Linked DNA regions of Homo sapiens: region 2 is linked to region 1. Evidence: fine-mapped expression QTL. Tissue or cell type: thyroid. Region 1 holds a variant in brackets; the other region holds the start of a gene. All regions are shown on one strand. Distances are from middle to middle.

Region 1 (8,000 bases):
GATGCTATTCCTGCCCCTGTGCATACTTTGGAGTTCACTGGAGGGTCTGGACATGTTGTTTCTCTTCCTATGCAGCTCTTTCCTCTACGGTACTTTACTTTGCAAACACAAGCTATCTTGGCCTTCCCAGAGTCTCAGCTCCATTTTCTCAACTCGGCATCTGCCAAGCCCTACCTGGGGGTTCTCCTTGTGCTTCAGCTGGGAAACTTTCTCCAGTTTACCTCTGAGTTCAACCTGATAACTCCAATTCTATTTCCATACTTTAAGGTTCATCCTAGCATTCTCCTTTTTCATATTCACAGTTCTTTTTATTAAGCTTTATTGAGGTATAATTAACATGCAGAATTGCACATATTTAATGTACACATTTTGATGAGTTTGGACATATGCCTAAGAGTGTATACTCAAAATACTTAGCTGGGTTCAGTCTATTTTCCCCCTGACCACTTCAGTGTGGTTATATGATTTATTTGAAAGACAGCTTTTTCTTGTTTGCTTGTTTTCCATTTTAGGATTTTTTTTAACTCATACTTTTTTCCCTTTTAGAGTATATGAAACATCAACATGGTTCAAAAAGTCAAAAGTCAGAACTATATAGAGTTAATTTTGTATAGACTAAGATATGAATCTAATTTTATCTCTTTCTAAATGGCAATCTACCTGTTACAAAACCATTGTTTAAAAAGTTTGTGTTAGGTGGGCACAGTGGCTCATGTCTGTAATCCCAGCACTTTGGGAGGCCGAGGCGCGTGGATCACTTGAGGTCAGGAGTTCGAGAACAGCCTGCCCAACATGGTGAAACCCCATCTCTACTAAAAATACAAAAATTAGCCAAGTGTGGTGGCGCATGCCTGTAATCCCAGCTACTCGGGAGGCTGAGGCAGGAGAATTGCTTGAACCCGGGAGGCGGAGGTTGCAGTGAGCCGAGATTGTGCCACTGCCCTCCAGCCTGGGCGACAGAGTGAGGGAAAATAATAATTAAAAAAAAGCTTATCTTCATGTCAGCAATTTTACATGCCACCTTTTACCATATATGAAAGCTCCCTATTCACTTGGATCTCTTTCTTTTTATTCTGTCTGTCCATTTAGTTACCATCACATAAATTATGGTGGCTTTATTGTATGTTTTATTATCCATAGGGCTAGTCTCCATTGTAGCTTTTCTTTTCTCAGTGTTTCCCTGACTATTCTTTTTGTTTTGTTTTGTTTTGAGACGGAGTCTCGCCCAGTTGTCCAGGCTGGAGTGCAGTGGTGCGATCTTGGCTCACAGCAGCCTCTGCCTCCCGGGATCAAGCTGTTCTCCTGTCTCAGACTCCTGAGTAGCAGGGATTACAGGCACGTGCCATCACACCTGGCTAATTTTTGTATTTTTAGTGGAGACAGGGTTTCACCATGTTGCCCAAGCTGGTCTCGAACTCCCAACCTCCCAAAGTGCTGGGATTACAGGTGTGAGCCCAGGCTTGAGCCACCACGCCCATCCAAGACCCTGACTATTCTTACATGTTTGGTTTTTCATGTGAACCTTACTATCAACTTGTCTAGCTCCAGATAAAAACTTTTTGATATTTCTATTGAGATTGTGTTAAATTTATAAATTAATCTGTGATGTTGCATCATCCTATCCAAGAGCACTGGCTGTCTTTCCACTTGCTGTAGTCTACTTTTGTGTCTTTCGGGAGTGTTGTTTTTCTCATATAGGTTTTGTATATGTCATACTGAAATTTATTCTTAAGCATTTAACTTCTTTTTTGCTTTGTTAATGTTTTTTTTCTATTACATCCTCTGTTTTTTGCTTGTATATTTGAAGGCTACTATTTCTGTATGTAAATTTTTATCTTCCTGAATTCTTTTGTTCTTTGAGTTAATTATACCTTTATTTCTCTAGAGCTTTCCAGATAAGTATCACACTCCATCTGCAAATACTTTTACTTATTTCCCAATTCCTAAACCTCTAATTGATTCCTTAAATATAACTGCATTGCCTAATATCTTCTTTAGAACATTAAATAGTAGTGGAAATAGTAGATGATCTTGTTTTGTTTCTGATCCTTATGGAAATTCCTGTAGCATTTCTTCATTAAGAAAGATTCTGTATTCAGGAAAAATCATAAGTGCTATCAGAAATATTCTTTTTTTGTACTGTCTTTATCAGGTTTAGGTATATATATTACACTTGCTTCAGAAGAATTGTTTGGAGTTTTCTTTCACTGTCTAGGCTGTGACAGAAATGTAAGTAGCAGTGAGACAATCAGTTCTTTGACAATTCCTCTATGAAATCAACTAGGCCTTTTTGTGTTTCTCCTCTGGGAATTTATCTGTTTATGCTTTCTTTCTGTAATGGGGTCAATTTTGGTACAGTTTCCTAAGAAATTATTCATTTTTTATGGTTTGCAAATTTATTTACACAGAGATCTCTCTGCCAGATAGTCTGTCATATTTTAAATCTCTTGTATTTCAATAGTTATCTCCCCCTTGTCATTTCATATTTTGTATATTTGTGCTATTTCTTTTTTCCCTTGGTTATGTTAGCCAGTGGTGTGTCAATTTTGTTATTTTTCCTTGAAACACTGATTTTTATTTAGTTATTTTTTTTCTATTCCCAACCTTACTACTTTTTCTTTTATGTTTATTATTTCCTTCCTTATGTTTCATTTTGGTCATTTTGTTGTGCTTATCTTAGCATTTGGAGTTTGGAATTTAATGAGTATATTTTTTGTCTTTCATTATTATTGATATAAATGCTTAAGGCTGTGAATTTTCCACTGATCTTTGCTTTAAATATATCCCATAGATGCTAAGTAGTATTTTTATTTATTTTTTTTTTTAAAAGTTCTTTAATTTTAGCACTCACCCATTTTACTTCCTTTCAATTTGGTATCATGGTGTAGCTATTCTAAAATGATCCTGCTCCCTAATGCCCTCAGAATAAAGCCCCAAACCTGCAGCCCTTCATGGTTTGCTTATTTCTCCAGCCATGTTCTCTCTCTGTCATATGCTCACTCTGCCTACAGTTTCCTTTTTCCTTATACCACCTGGCCAATGTCTAGTCATTTTTGAAGATGAAGATCAAATTTAGGAATCCTTCTCTGATAATTCTCAACCCCCAATACCATCCCAGTTAAGCATTCCTCCTGGAAACTTAATAAAATCATATACTTCCTTTTTGTAATACTTATAACATTATATTTTAATATTTTGTTTTTCCACTAACATTGTAAGATCCTTGAAAGAAGGTATGCTTTTTTATTACTGTTCCCATGGTGTTCAGTAAATATTTGTTTAGTGTCCCTTCAGCTGTAGATTTCAAAACTACTATTTTAATGCATACATTCTGACCTGTGAGCTCTAGCATACTCTAGAGCTTCTTTGTCATAAACTTAGTTTGGTTGGTTGGTCTTAGCTTTTCAATTGAAGTGTAACATACAGAAAAGTACACAAATTACAAGTGTCCAGCTCAATCAATTTTCACAAAATGAAAACACCTATGCAACCACAACCCAGATCAGCTCCATGAATTTTTACAAGGTGAACGCCTGTGAAACTGTACTACATATCAAGAAATAGAACCTTACCAGCCCTCCAGAAGCCTCCTTTGTGACTCCTCTCAATTGTTATGCCCTTGTTTTTTTCCCAAAGGTAACCATTATCCTAATCTCTAACAACACAGATTAATTTTGTCTGTTTTTGAATTTTATATAAATGGGAAAATACGGTAAGTACAACTTTGTGTATGGCTTCTTTCACTCTGTTATGGTAGTTCTTTTTTATTGCTGTGTAATATTTCATTGTTGGAAATTACCACAATTTACTTATATGTTCTATTGTTAGGCATTTGGGTTGTTTCCAATTTGGGGCTCTTATGAATAAAGCTGCTATGAAAATAATCCTTACATAAGCCTCTTTTTGCCCATGTGAATGCATATCTTTTCAGTATGTACACAGAAGTGGAATTGCTGGGTTATCACTTTAGTAGAATAGTTTCCAAATTCACATCCTTGCCAACAGTGTATGAAGGTTTTCACAGCTTAACAGCTTCACTGACAATTAGTATTTTCTGACTTTTTCATTTTTTGCAGTTCTGGTGAGTGTGCAGTAGTATCTTATTGTGGTTTTAATTTGGATTTCCCCAGTGACTAATTAGGTTGAACACCTTTTCAAATGTTTATAGGCTTTTTGGATATCCCCTCATGTATAAGTCATATTCATTTTTCTTTAACTTTCTTAGTACTTCAAAAGAATTCCAGTATGTTCTGGATACAAGCTGTCAGCTATACCTATTCCAAGTATCTACTCTCTCACCCTGACCTGGTTTTCACTATCTTAATGGTATCATTTGATGAGCCTAAGTTGTTTATTTAATATAATAGTCCAAATTATCTTTTTATCTTTTCGATCTAGTGCTTTTTAGTGTCCTACACTATTTAAGACATCTTTCCCTATCTGGAAGAGATGCTTTATTATTTCACCATTCGTGCTTAAATCTACAATCTACTTAGTGTTAACTTTAGGATATGATGTGGGATGTGAGTTGACATTCCCTTTTTCCCACGTGTGTATCCAATTGACCTGGCACCATTTATTGCTGCCTTGCCACTTTGCCTTAAATCAGTCGTCCCTATATATATGATTATGTTTCTGGACTCTAGGCGAATTCTGTTTTGTCTATGTGTCTATCCTTGTGTCAGTAACACACTTAGTTGCTGTAGCTTTATAATAAGTCTTGATGATATG[C/T]GGTAACATTAGTTCTCCCCTTTGTTGTTATTCTTCAAGACTGTCTTGGCTATTCTTCGCCCTTTGTAGCCCCATATAAATTTTAAAATCGGTTTGTTGATTTCCACAAGAAAACTTGCTGAAACATGTCAGCTGAAATTTGACTGGGATAGAATTGAATCCATTCATCAATTTGATGTATCCCTCCATTTATTTAGATTTTAATTTCTCTATCTTTTGTATTTTTCTGTGAAACATCTGAAAAGATTGCACACATCTTTCATTTAAATTATTCTTGGGAATTTGGTGTTTTATGTTATTGTAATTGGTATCTTTTCATAATTTTCCAGTTGGTACCGGTTATTTAGATAGCAAATTGATATATGTATATTGGCTTTATATCCAGCAGCCTTATGGATATAAATGTACTTATTAATCCTAATGATTTATCTGCAGATTTTATTTCCTTGGGATTTTCTATGTAAACAGTCATGTCTTCCATAAACAAGGGCAATTTAATTTCACCCTTTCCAATCTTTACACCTTTTTATTTCTCTTTCATGCCTTATTATACTGTCTCAGTCTTCCAGTAAAATTTATGAATAAAATGTAAAAGAGAATGCTTTAAAATTTCCCAATTATCTCTGGTGTTTAATTTAGCTTTTCTGTAGTTAGCCTCTATCATATTAAGGAAGTTCCCTTGTATTTCTAGTATTCTAAGCCTCTTTTTTATGATTGAATGTTGAATTTTATCAAATGCTCCTTCTGCATTTATTAAGATAATCATATGATTATTTGCCTTAATGTGGTAAGTCGCATGAACTGATTTCTGAATCTTAACCCAGCTTTGCATTCCTTAGTCACTGTATATTATCTCTTTAGTGTATTCACTAGGCTAATCTTTTTAGGAATTATATATCTTTTTCATAAATAAGATTGATCCATAATTTTCTTTTCTTTAAACACCTTTGCTAGATTTTGATATCATGGTTTTGCTGGCTGCATAGTACAAAGTAGAAAATGTTCCCATATCTCGATTTTCTGAAATGGTTTGTGTAAGTTTGGGTTTTTTCTTTAAATGTTTGATAGAATGTAACAGATTAGCAATGTCAGTGTGGAGTTTTCTTTGTGTAAAGTTTTAAATTATAGGTTCAGTTTCTTTAAAATATGTAGGATTATTCTGATTTTCTGTATCGTTTTAGTTTTGGCAAGTTGTGCTTTTCTAGGAATTTATCCTAGAACTTTAGTTTACATTGTTCACAATATCTTCTTATTATTCTTTTAAAGTTTGTAGGATCCGAAGTGATTTCTCTTTTTTCATTCCTTACATTAGTAATTTTTGTGTTCTCTGTTTTTACCTTGATCAGTCTTGGTGGGGGTTTATTAATGATATCAGTCTTTTCAAAAGAGCCATAAATGTCCCTTTAAGCACTGCTTTGGGTACATCCATAATTTTTATTTACTATCCTTCAGTTCAAAGTATTTCCCTTGTGATATTATTACCCTTGTGATTTACTTTGATGTAGGTGTTATTTAGAAATATTTCATAAGATGAAATCAACACATGCTGCCCCTATATCTCACTGAACTCAACTATATACTCTGGAAAGAATGCCAAGCCTAGCTATTTGTGAACTCTGGAATGTAAATAACAGGCAGATTGGAGAAGGGCCCCAAAACTCAAAATACCACAGAAGTGGGGATATAAACAAGATCCAAAGTCTCATAACTTAATATCCAAAATAACCAGGACATAAACCAAAGTTATTTAACATATTAAGAACCACAGAAATCTCATCTTGTATGGGAGAAGATAATCAACAGATACAAAAGGCAAGATGACACTTATGTTGGAAATATCTGACAAGACTTTAAAAGCTGCCATTATGAAAATGCTCAAGCTATCAGTCACAAAAATGTTGCAACAAATATTTAAAAAGAAAAAGTATCATATAAGAAATAGAAGATAAAAAGAAGCAAATGTAAATTTTACAACTGAAAAATATAACAACCAAAAATTTTAAACTCTAGATTAAAAGTGAGAATGCAGTGGAAATGCCAGAGGAAAGAGTCAGTAAACTTGAAGATAGATTAATAGAATTATCCAAGCTGGATAACAGACAGAAAAGACTGGGAAAAAAGGGACAGAGTTTCAGAGAACTGTAGAAAAACCACAAAAGGTAGCAAAGGATAGACATATAAATCAGTGGAATAGAATTGTGAGTCCATAAGTCAACCTGTACATTTCTGGTCAATTGATCTTCAACAACTGTGCCATGATAATTCAACAGGGAAATAAGAGGCAATTCAACAAATGGTGCTGGGACAGCTGGATATCCACATGCAAAAAGAATAATGCTGGACCACTATCTTCACCCAATATACAAAAATTAAAATGGATCAAAGATCTAAATAGAAGAGCTAAAACAATACAACTTTAGAAGAAAACATAGGGGTACATCTTCATGACCTTCAATTTGGCACTAATTTCTTAAATATGACATCAAATGCACAAGGGAGAAAGGAAAAACAGATAAATTGGATTTGATAAAAATTAAAAACTTTTGTGCATCACAGCACATTATCAAGAAGGTGAAAATAACCTACAGAATCAGAAAAAATAGTGGCAAATTACAAAAAGCAGTCTCCCCTTATCTTTGGGGAATATGTTCCAAGAACCCCAGTGGAGGCCTGAAACCACAGATAGTACTGACCCCTATTACACCATGTTTTCTTATACACGCACACCTGTGATAAAGTTTAGTTTATAAATTAGGCACAGTATGAGATTAACAACAACAATAGTAAAATAGAACAATTATAACAATATATTGTTCACAATTTCAAAGATAGAAGATTTGTTCTTACTATAGGCCTTAGCAGCATTAGCATATGATATGTTCTCGTTTTTTAAAATTAAGTTGGATACTTTTCATCATTTCACTTAAATGAAGCACTTTAGGGCTTCTCTTTGGCATAGCAGAACTGCCAACATTGCTGCTCCTATGTTCTGGGGCCATTATTAAGTAAAATAAGGGTTATTTGAACATTAGAACTGCAATACCGTGACAGTCAATCTGATGGTTACCAAGTGACTAATGGGCAGGTATCATATACAGTATGGATCAGATGGACAAAGGGTTGATTCATATCCTGGGCAGGTTAGAGCAGGATGGCGTAAGATTTCATCATGCTACTCAGAAAGGTCTGCAACTTAAAGCTTATGAATTGTTTATTTCTAGAATTTTTCATCTAACATTTTTGGACCGTGGTTGACCACAGGTAACTGA
Region 2 (8,217 bases), 36 kb before region 1:
ACATGTTGACATTTAAATTTGTTTTGAATGGAAAACAAAATTGCATTGGTTATATTGACATTAAAAGGAAATAATGCCAGTGGAATAGAGGGCAAAGAGTTTGGAGATGATGGTCTGAGTTACTGAGTCACTACAAAGAGGCCTATGAGTCACTACAAAATATTCTCAGAAGAAAGGCAGTGTGATGTGCTGCTGTGACCCAAAGGTCAACATGCTGGGCATCAGCGGGATGAGCTTGGGAACCACCTCTCAGCACAGTATCCTGGAATTGTGTGTGCTAGCATTCAGAGGGCATGCAGGCCCAGAGAAAGACAACTGCAGTGATCAAGGGACAGAGAAGTCACCATATGAGCATGAACAAAGTCCTCAGCAGAGAAATGCAAAGGCTGAGGGAGAGGGATTCAGATCAAAGCCTATACAATCACAGGTTTTATGAGTGGAAAAATGTGATTCTTAGAAAACTTGCTCCCAACATTTTCCTTGGTCAAATAAGTTTGGGAATCTTGGAGAGTCATAAAGCACATTAGTGTAGTAACTGTTCTGGCAAGTTATGCAGTAAAGAAACTTTATGTTAACATTTCCCAAATTTATTTGACTAGAGAACATTTTATTTGCACATGATACTTGTTTACAAAATTCAGGACTTCTCGAACTAAGACGAATCTTTTAAAACCTCAACATAGACTTAGGTACAAGGTGCAATACAATACATGGAATATAAACTTGTGCAACTCAACTCAAGGAATACTGCCAGCTACAAATACAAATGAATTCCAAAAATGTTTAGATAACTGCATAACTTTATCATCCACTAGAAGAGATTGTCCCCATGAGGGTCACCTTGATTTCGGGGCCAGAGAGCACACTGGCCAAGACAGACAATTTCTTAGTAAGGCATTTTGTAAATTAGGTTTTAAATGGATGACATATAAGATAGAAGGGCTTCCTTAGGTAGTAATCTAAGTAAAACTATCATTTTTCCTTTACAGAATAAATTCTTTTGTGTCTTTTTTAAAAAAGTATAGTTTGCTTTAATTGCCAGGTTGATGAACAGTTTTTAAACATTGATCAGTTGAATACACTTATTTTATTAGAAGTCAATTAATAAACTCGTCCAATTACAATGAGTGAAATTACCAAGAACACAGGCCCAGGCCTGTGTATGAGTCCTGAGTCTGTCACTTACTAGCTTTGTGACCTTGGACAAGTTAACGTCTCTCCACCTCAGTTTCCTGAGGTGTAAAATGAGAATTAAAGAACATATTAATCATGATAGTCTTTATTTAGCATTTCCTATATGTTTACATATATTGACTCATTTAATTTTCACAATCTTCATAGGGCGCTATGAGGTGGGCAGAATTATTATCATCCCCACTTAAAGGTGAGGAAAAGAAAGGCACAGAGAAGTTAGGTAACTTGCTCAAGGTCACACAGTGGGGAAGTTGTTGAGCTTGACTCCAAATGGGGCAGTTTACATGTACCAGGCATATAAATGCTTAGTATCTAGCATATAATAAGCTTGCCATAAATGTTAATAATTTTGTTCTACTCCAGTTAAATGCCTGGAGCTGTAAAAGGCAGCCATGAGCATTAGAAAAGTTAGTGAACCTCATTCTGGAATATGAGATTGACTACCGCCGATAACAAACAAAAGGTATTTTTCTTCTTGAAAGTGCCTAAAGGCACTATATCCCATCACCAAATGTTAATGTCATAATAATAAGAACAGCCGTTCCTGCTCCATGAGGACGGGGCATACTAGCCACAAACAGTAACTGAAAATAACATATGATATAAAATTGAAACAAGAGAAAATTTAGACAGGTCCAATGTAACTGCACACGAAAATTTTCCAACCTTCATCATGATCAAATTAATTATAGAAAGATGTGCCATGTGATCCTTACAGATCGTTAGGTAAAAACGGAGGCTGCTGGCGTGCACATTACAGATCGTTGCACTGGATGGGGACCCTATGTGTGGGGAGACTTGGGTTGGAACTGACTTGGGAGAAAAGAGCAAAGCATCAACACTTCAAGTAGCACCTTGGGAATGTTCCCTTTCCAGTACTGCCATACCTGCCTGGCTTCAAAACTACACAAAGTAGAAAACCAAATCAAAGACACGAACACGGACGGGCTGTGGAGGCGGCACGGCATATATTGTGCTTTGATTTAGAATCGCTTTCAAAATCCACGTGTGATTCCTAGACTTGTGAGTTGGAAGATCTGTACTTTTATCCTTGGCACGTTTGACATACCTCGAAATAAAAATTACTTTTACATATATTTTTACTGTCTGATATCATCGAGACAAGGAGACCCGAGGAAACTTGCATTCTGGATACCTAATGTGATACATCCGAACTTGAATAAAAACTGAAGTTCTCCATTTCCCCTTCCCTGTATCCAACAAATAGCTACCTAAAAGCCTTTGTAGAAAGTAGCAGCAGCCAAGCTTAAGAGTGATACTTTTTCAGATACAGTATAACACTGTTTCTGCAAAAGGTTACTCACATGAATATAATGTTTCTTGGGCTAATTAATCCGCCTTGAGAACAGCTAGGCTAAAACTTCCAGGTCTCCCACCCTGGGCCACTCAAGCCAGGATCGCGACGTGAGCCCGGGGTGAGCCGAGGGGCATCCCGGGCCGAGGTCACTCGAACCGAAGTTATGAGGCGCGGGCCGGCAACCGGAAGTGGTCCAGGGAGAGTTGTACGAGATTCGGGGGCTGTGACTTGGAAATAAAACAAAATAAAATAAAACCTTAACTGTTTTGGGACTGACTTTCAAAAGAGCGTCCCCCTGGCTCAAGAGGCCGGCGTTCGCGGAGATGTCGTCTTAAAGGGCTGTCCCCCAAGCGTGTAGGCCGCGCACGGGTCTCCTTAGCGGGCGGGCAAAATGGGCGCCGGTACTCGGGAGGCGCCTGCCCAGGCGCCCGGGCGCCGCTCACAGAGTACGTCCGCCTGCGGCCCCAGAGCGCCGCCTCCCTGCCGCCCCCGCCGCCCGGCCTGACGCCCGGACCGCGGCCGGCCACCGCCCTCCGCCCCGACGGCCACGCCTGCCCCAAACCGCGCGGGCGTTTCCCAGGTGCTGCTGGGCGGGCCCCGCCCCCGTGCCCCAAGGCCCGCCCCCGCGCGCCAGCCGCGCGCCCGCTGCCCCCTCCTCGCCCCCACAGCCCCGCCCCCACAGCCCCGCCCGCTCCCTAAGCCCCGCCCCCTAGGAACCCGCGCGCCGAAGGCCAGGCCTGGGCGGAGCGCACAGCGCTGGGCGCTGGGGAGGCTGCGCCGCAGCACCCGGTTGGTCAGGACCAAGTGGGCCCGAGGCGGACGTGAGAAGGGTCGGGCCAAGATGGCGGTGCAGGTGGTGCAGGCGGTGCAGGCGGTTCATCTCGAGTCTGACGCTTTCCTCGTTTGTCTCAACCACGCTCTGAGCACAGAGAAGGAGGAAGTAATGGGGCTGTGCATAGGGGAGGTGAGTAGGTCTGTTAGCCTGGATGGAACCCTGCTGAGCAGTCCCAGTGTGTCCCCGGGGTGGGTGCCGGCAGCTCCCAGGGCTGCGGAGGCCACAGGCATCCTCGATTTAGGTCCTTGGACACCCTTTACATAGCTCTGTCGCGGGGAGCCCCGTTTCTTCTGGCCGCCTGACACTTGTTTAGTCTCCTGCGAGCCCCCGGCGGTCTGTACAGGCCCCGGGAGCCTTGCCCTTTCTCCTGTAGCCTGGGGCTTCTCTTTAGATCTGCGCTTTTCGCCCGGTTGACCAAAACTGCAAGGCAGGTCAGAAAGACACTGGAGTATAATGAGGATGTCCGGGTATTACGACGCAGCAGCTGACCACAGTTAGAGCCCCTTGCCTCGCCTCGAGTCTTCTGTCTAGGGAGCAGAGATATCAACCAAAGCATTTGAAGGGTATCGAAGAGCCTAACAGAAGGTGCGGGGCTTGAAGGAAGCAAAAGTTTCCGCTGCATTGTGTTGAGGAGGGGCCGAAGAGGATGAGGAAATACAGTTTAGCTGTTTACAGTCTAAAGTAATTCTCCAGTCTTTCATACCATGTGCGTGAACACATGACCTAATTGTCATATAATCTGCATCCATATATGTCAAACAAACGTAATGTGATCAATAATGTTTTTTGCTTTTTCCCACTCTAGTTGAACGATGATACAAGGTAAGACTGTATTTGTTTACTCATATCTTATAATCTCTAAGTCATTGTTAACCTAAAATTATGGCGACTTTGGCAGTATTGTGTCCGGATCGTGTCTTAAATTAATTACCATTATCACTCCGGGGCTCCCTTAATGATACAACCTTGAACTTTGGTTTCTGCCTTACCTCCTATTCAGTTGAGATATGGGATAAACATCTTAATAAGCATTATCATAATTGTTGCGTTTTAGGGGTGAGACAGAGCCTCACTCTGTCGCCCAGGCTGGAGTGCAGTGGCGCGATCTCTGCTCACTGCAACCTCCGCCTCCCAGGTTCAAGCGATTCTCATACTTCAGACTCCCGAATAGCTGAGATTACAGGTGCCCGCCACCACACCCGGCTGTCTTTTTTTTTTGTACAGACGGGGTTTCACCATGTTGGCCAGGCTGGTCTCGAACTCCTGGCTCAAGCAGTCTGCCCACCTCGACCTCCCCAAGTGCTGGAATTTCAGGCGTGAGCCACCACACCTGGCCTTGCTCAGTGTATTTCATGTTCTGTCTCCCCTTAAATGCCAGTGAGATATCAGTAATTTTCTTAGTGACAGAGAGCATATACGTTTAGAGGCATTTCCCCATTGATCCATTCCTTCACGTAAATTGACAGTGACATTGCCTTTCCTCCTGATGGACCTCAGTGATCTCAGAGATCCCCAGTAGCTTCAATACTTGACGTGGTGAAACCTTTCGGTAACATTTTAATTTAAACTTCAAATCATACCATAGTATACTTCTCAAGCCCACCTCCTTAGTTCCCAGGATTCCAGGAATTTAGCTTTGTCCATTATAACTTTATACACTCAGCCACTTGTGCATGTGTCCCAGATTGCTTCTAACAGATAGAGTGCAGCTCTAGCCTCAATTCAGTTTCCCTCCTCTTCTTTGGTCTCTGCTAAGATTTCATTGCAAAAACAGTTAATCCTGTTATTTTGCTTTAATTCCTTTTTATATTCCAAACCCCACTTCCTTTTTTTTTTTCTAATTTATTCCCAGTAGGAGTGACTCCAAATTTGCATATACTGGAACTGAAATGCGCACAGTTGCTGAAAAGGTATGTGTGCTAAAATTTTGCATGATGGAAACTTGCAGTTGGGGAAAGATTTCTGTAATCCAGTGATCTCAGCCAGAGTATGCGGTTTCTGGCTGGATGAGATATTCTTTCTAGTAAAATCAGATGAAGAATCTACTCACTAGGAATGGGACCTAATTTTCTGTTCTTTGTAGCAAATTGTCTCTACTTGATCAAGATTAATAATCACTGTCAGTACCACCCTCTTGCTGCTCTCCTTGCTGTCACTGCCTGTTTTCTGGCCCTTCTCCCACTTTCCTTGATACTTTGGCATCCTTGATACTTTCACATCACTATTACCTCTTTATCTCGAATTCCAACATCTACTCATGCAGCCCTCTCTTCTTAAACAGGCAAACTGACCATAGCATCATAGTTCTTAGTCTGCCTTGACTTTTTTCCTATCTGCACTCCTACACCATCTTTTGTGGCATGCTCTAGCCTTGATGGTCTAGTGTAATGCTTCTCACCTAATCGTGGTATCGGACCAGTTAACGTTTCCCCCAGTCTGTCACAGACCGATGCTTTTGTAAAATACAAAAAAAATGAATTACTTCCCCTCCTCCCACCAAGTTATCAGGCCACACCTTCATCTACTTATTACTACTAGTTACAAACTTCTCCACCTTAATCACTTTGCATCTCTTCCCATATCAAAGAAATAAGTCCTCTTCCTATCCAAAGCTGCAGCTTCTTCAGAGACCTTGTTTATCAAATGTTCTGTCTCTTTTCTGGGTCTTCTCCCTGTCACCTGGTTCTTTTAGGATAAACATATGCTTAAATTACTCTCATTTTCAGAAAGGAAAGCTACTTCTTAATCCCGTATCTTCCTGTAGTCAGTACTCTTATATCCTTCCTTTAATAGCCAGACTTCTTAAAAGAATGGGCTACAATTACTACTCCTTCACCTTCCCCAGTCAAACCCACTGAGGTCTGGTTTCTAATTCTACCTTCGGTGGATTATTTCCTGGTGCTTATCTTCATCTTTCTCCTTGAATCTCTAAACTCTCATGAGTTTTTGTTGGTTTTGTTGTATTGCCTTTATTCCTGTTTCCCCCTTCCCACAATCCTTTGTGGACTCCTCTTCCTCCTCTGTCTATGCATTAAATATTACTCATTCCTCTTAGGCACTGAAATCTCTGACTAAAGCAAGAAAGAGAGAAAGAAACAATTCACCCTGGGCATCAGTTACTAAGATACATTCCAATCTTAATAATGTAATTTTATTATTCAAGATTTCATGCCCTCGTCTTGAGTTTTATGTCAGTTTGTACTGTCTAAATTAGATATTAAACTTTATTAGTTAAGCTGCCTTTTTAGTGTTGCATAGTGTATTTTTTATCCTTTTATTTTTAGCCTTTCTGTATACTAATATTTAAAATGTGTCTCTTGTGTCTCTTATTAGTGGTAAATACTTTTTAAAAAATCCAGTGTGATAATCTTTTTAAGTGGAGTATTCAGTTGAAAAACAAAACAAAAATAAACCACAAAAAAAGAAATATCATGTGAGCCACGAATGTGATCCATATACATAATTTTAAATTTTTTAGTAATCACAGTAAAAAGGAATAAATGAAATTAATTTGAAGGGTGTATTTTAGTTAACCTAAGTATCTGAAGGATTATTATTTTAATATGTAGTGAATATTAAGAAATGTTGAGATATTTTACATTCCTTTTTTCTCTTTTGTGTTGTCTTTGAATTCCATGTGTATTTCATACTTGCTGCATATCTGAAATCAGACCTGTTGCACAGTGAAAATCTATAGCTTGTTTCAAAAGCCTTCTCTCAGATTTCACCCTTGTCCCTTCAACATCTGATAATGCTAAGCCCACTCTTTCCCCTGGCCCTTCTTGTTCTTCCCCACACTAAATGTGGCCACTCCCCTTGATTCAGGCCAAGACCTCTGCTCCCTTTCTCCACACCTTTTTTGTCCACTCATAAATGCTTTATTGATTCCTGCATTGATGCTGTTTGAGTCTAAGCTATAATCCCACTTGCCTGCTAAAAATTGCCATATTGTATATCTCTCATCCCAGATTATCTCATCTGAAAACAAGCTCATCTTCTTTCCTTCCTGACCCTTTCTAAACTTAGATCTGCCTCACACGTTCTACCTAGTTTCAACCTTGAAACTTTAGAGTCCTCTTTGACCGTTTCCTGTCCACCATCACCCATGGTCCATAAGCTACCAAATCTTGTAGATTCATTCTTTTTAATGGGTCTCAAATCTGTTTCTTCCATCTCTGCCATCTGCTTAGCCCAGTACTTCATTGTTACTTCATGTACAGTTTATCTGAAATAATTTTTTTTCCTTCGAGTTCATCCTGCAAATTATGGCTTGGCATTTGAGGTCTTGTACATTCTCACTCCAACTTTCTTAGCTTTGCCATCTGCCATTTCACCTCAAGCTCTGTATCTAAATCAGTTGGGTAAGTTGTCTCCCAGACACCTCATTCACACTTTACTACTTCCATTCGGCACCTGTAGAAAATCTGTTCCCCCCACTTCCCACAATAATCAAGGAATGGATACACTTGTCTGCCTTTTCTATGAAGATTTTTTTCTTTTTTAGATTCATATTCTGCTTATGTAAAAGATTACTTTTCTAATATAAGTGAGTTCTTTCCTCTGAGCTCCTGTATTAGTCTGTTATCACACTGTAAAGAACTCTCTGAGGCCGGGTGCGGTGGGTTATGCCTGTAATCCCAGCACTTCGAGAGGTCGAGGCAGGCCTGAAGTCAGGAGTTTGAGACCAGCCTAGCCAATATGGCTACCAAAAAATACAAAAAGCCGGGCATGGTGGCGTGTGCCTGTAATCCCAGCTGCTGAGGAGGCTGAGGTGGGAGAATCGCTTGAACCCAGGAGGTAGACGTTGCAGTGAGCTGAGATTGCACTACTGCACTCCAGCCTGGGCGACAGACTGAGACTGTGTCAAAAA

What was found. PIP is the estimated chance that this variant, and not a neighbour inherited with it, causes the effect.
Region 2: BRCC3 starts here. The variant in region 1 is fine-mapped to the expression of BRCC3 in thyroid (GTEx, PIP above 0.99).

What each region holds. Positions count from the first base shown.
Region 1 is chrX:155,104,507-155,112,506 of GRCh38, forward strand. The region is part of intron 7 of BRCC3 (BRCA1/BRCA2-containing complex subunit 3); the gene reads left to right. Among named protein-coding and RNA genes, the nearest start is that of BRCC3, 37 kb to the left of the region's middle. The variant C/T (reference allele first, on the strand shown) is at 4,732.
Region 2 is chrX:155,068,175-155,076,391 of GRCh38, forward strand. BRCC3 (BRCA1/BRCA2-containing complex subunit 3) reads left to right here and starts at 3,334. Exons shown (of 11, transcript NM_001018055.3): 1 at 3,334-3,476; 2 at 4,153-4,169; 3 at 5,203-5,257. The coding sequence starts at 3,354. CMC4 (C-X9-C motif containing 4) reads right to left here and starts at 2,962. Exons shown (of 3, transcript NM_001018024.3): 1 at 2,520-2,962. It overlaps MTCP1 (mature T cell proliferation 1), which reads right to left and starts at 2,962. Exons shown (of 5, transcript NM_001018025.4): 1 at 2,520-2,962. RefSeq lists enhancers at 2,590-2,889, 2,874-3,595, 3,360-3,579, 3,590-3,639, 3,596-4,317 and a silencer at 2,930-3,249.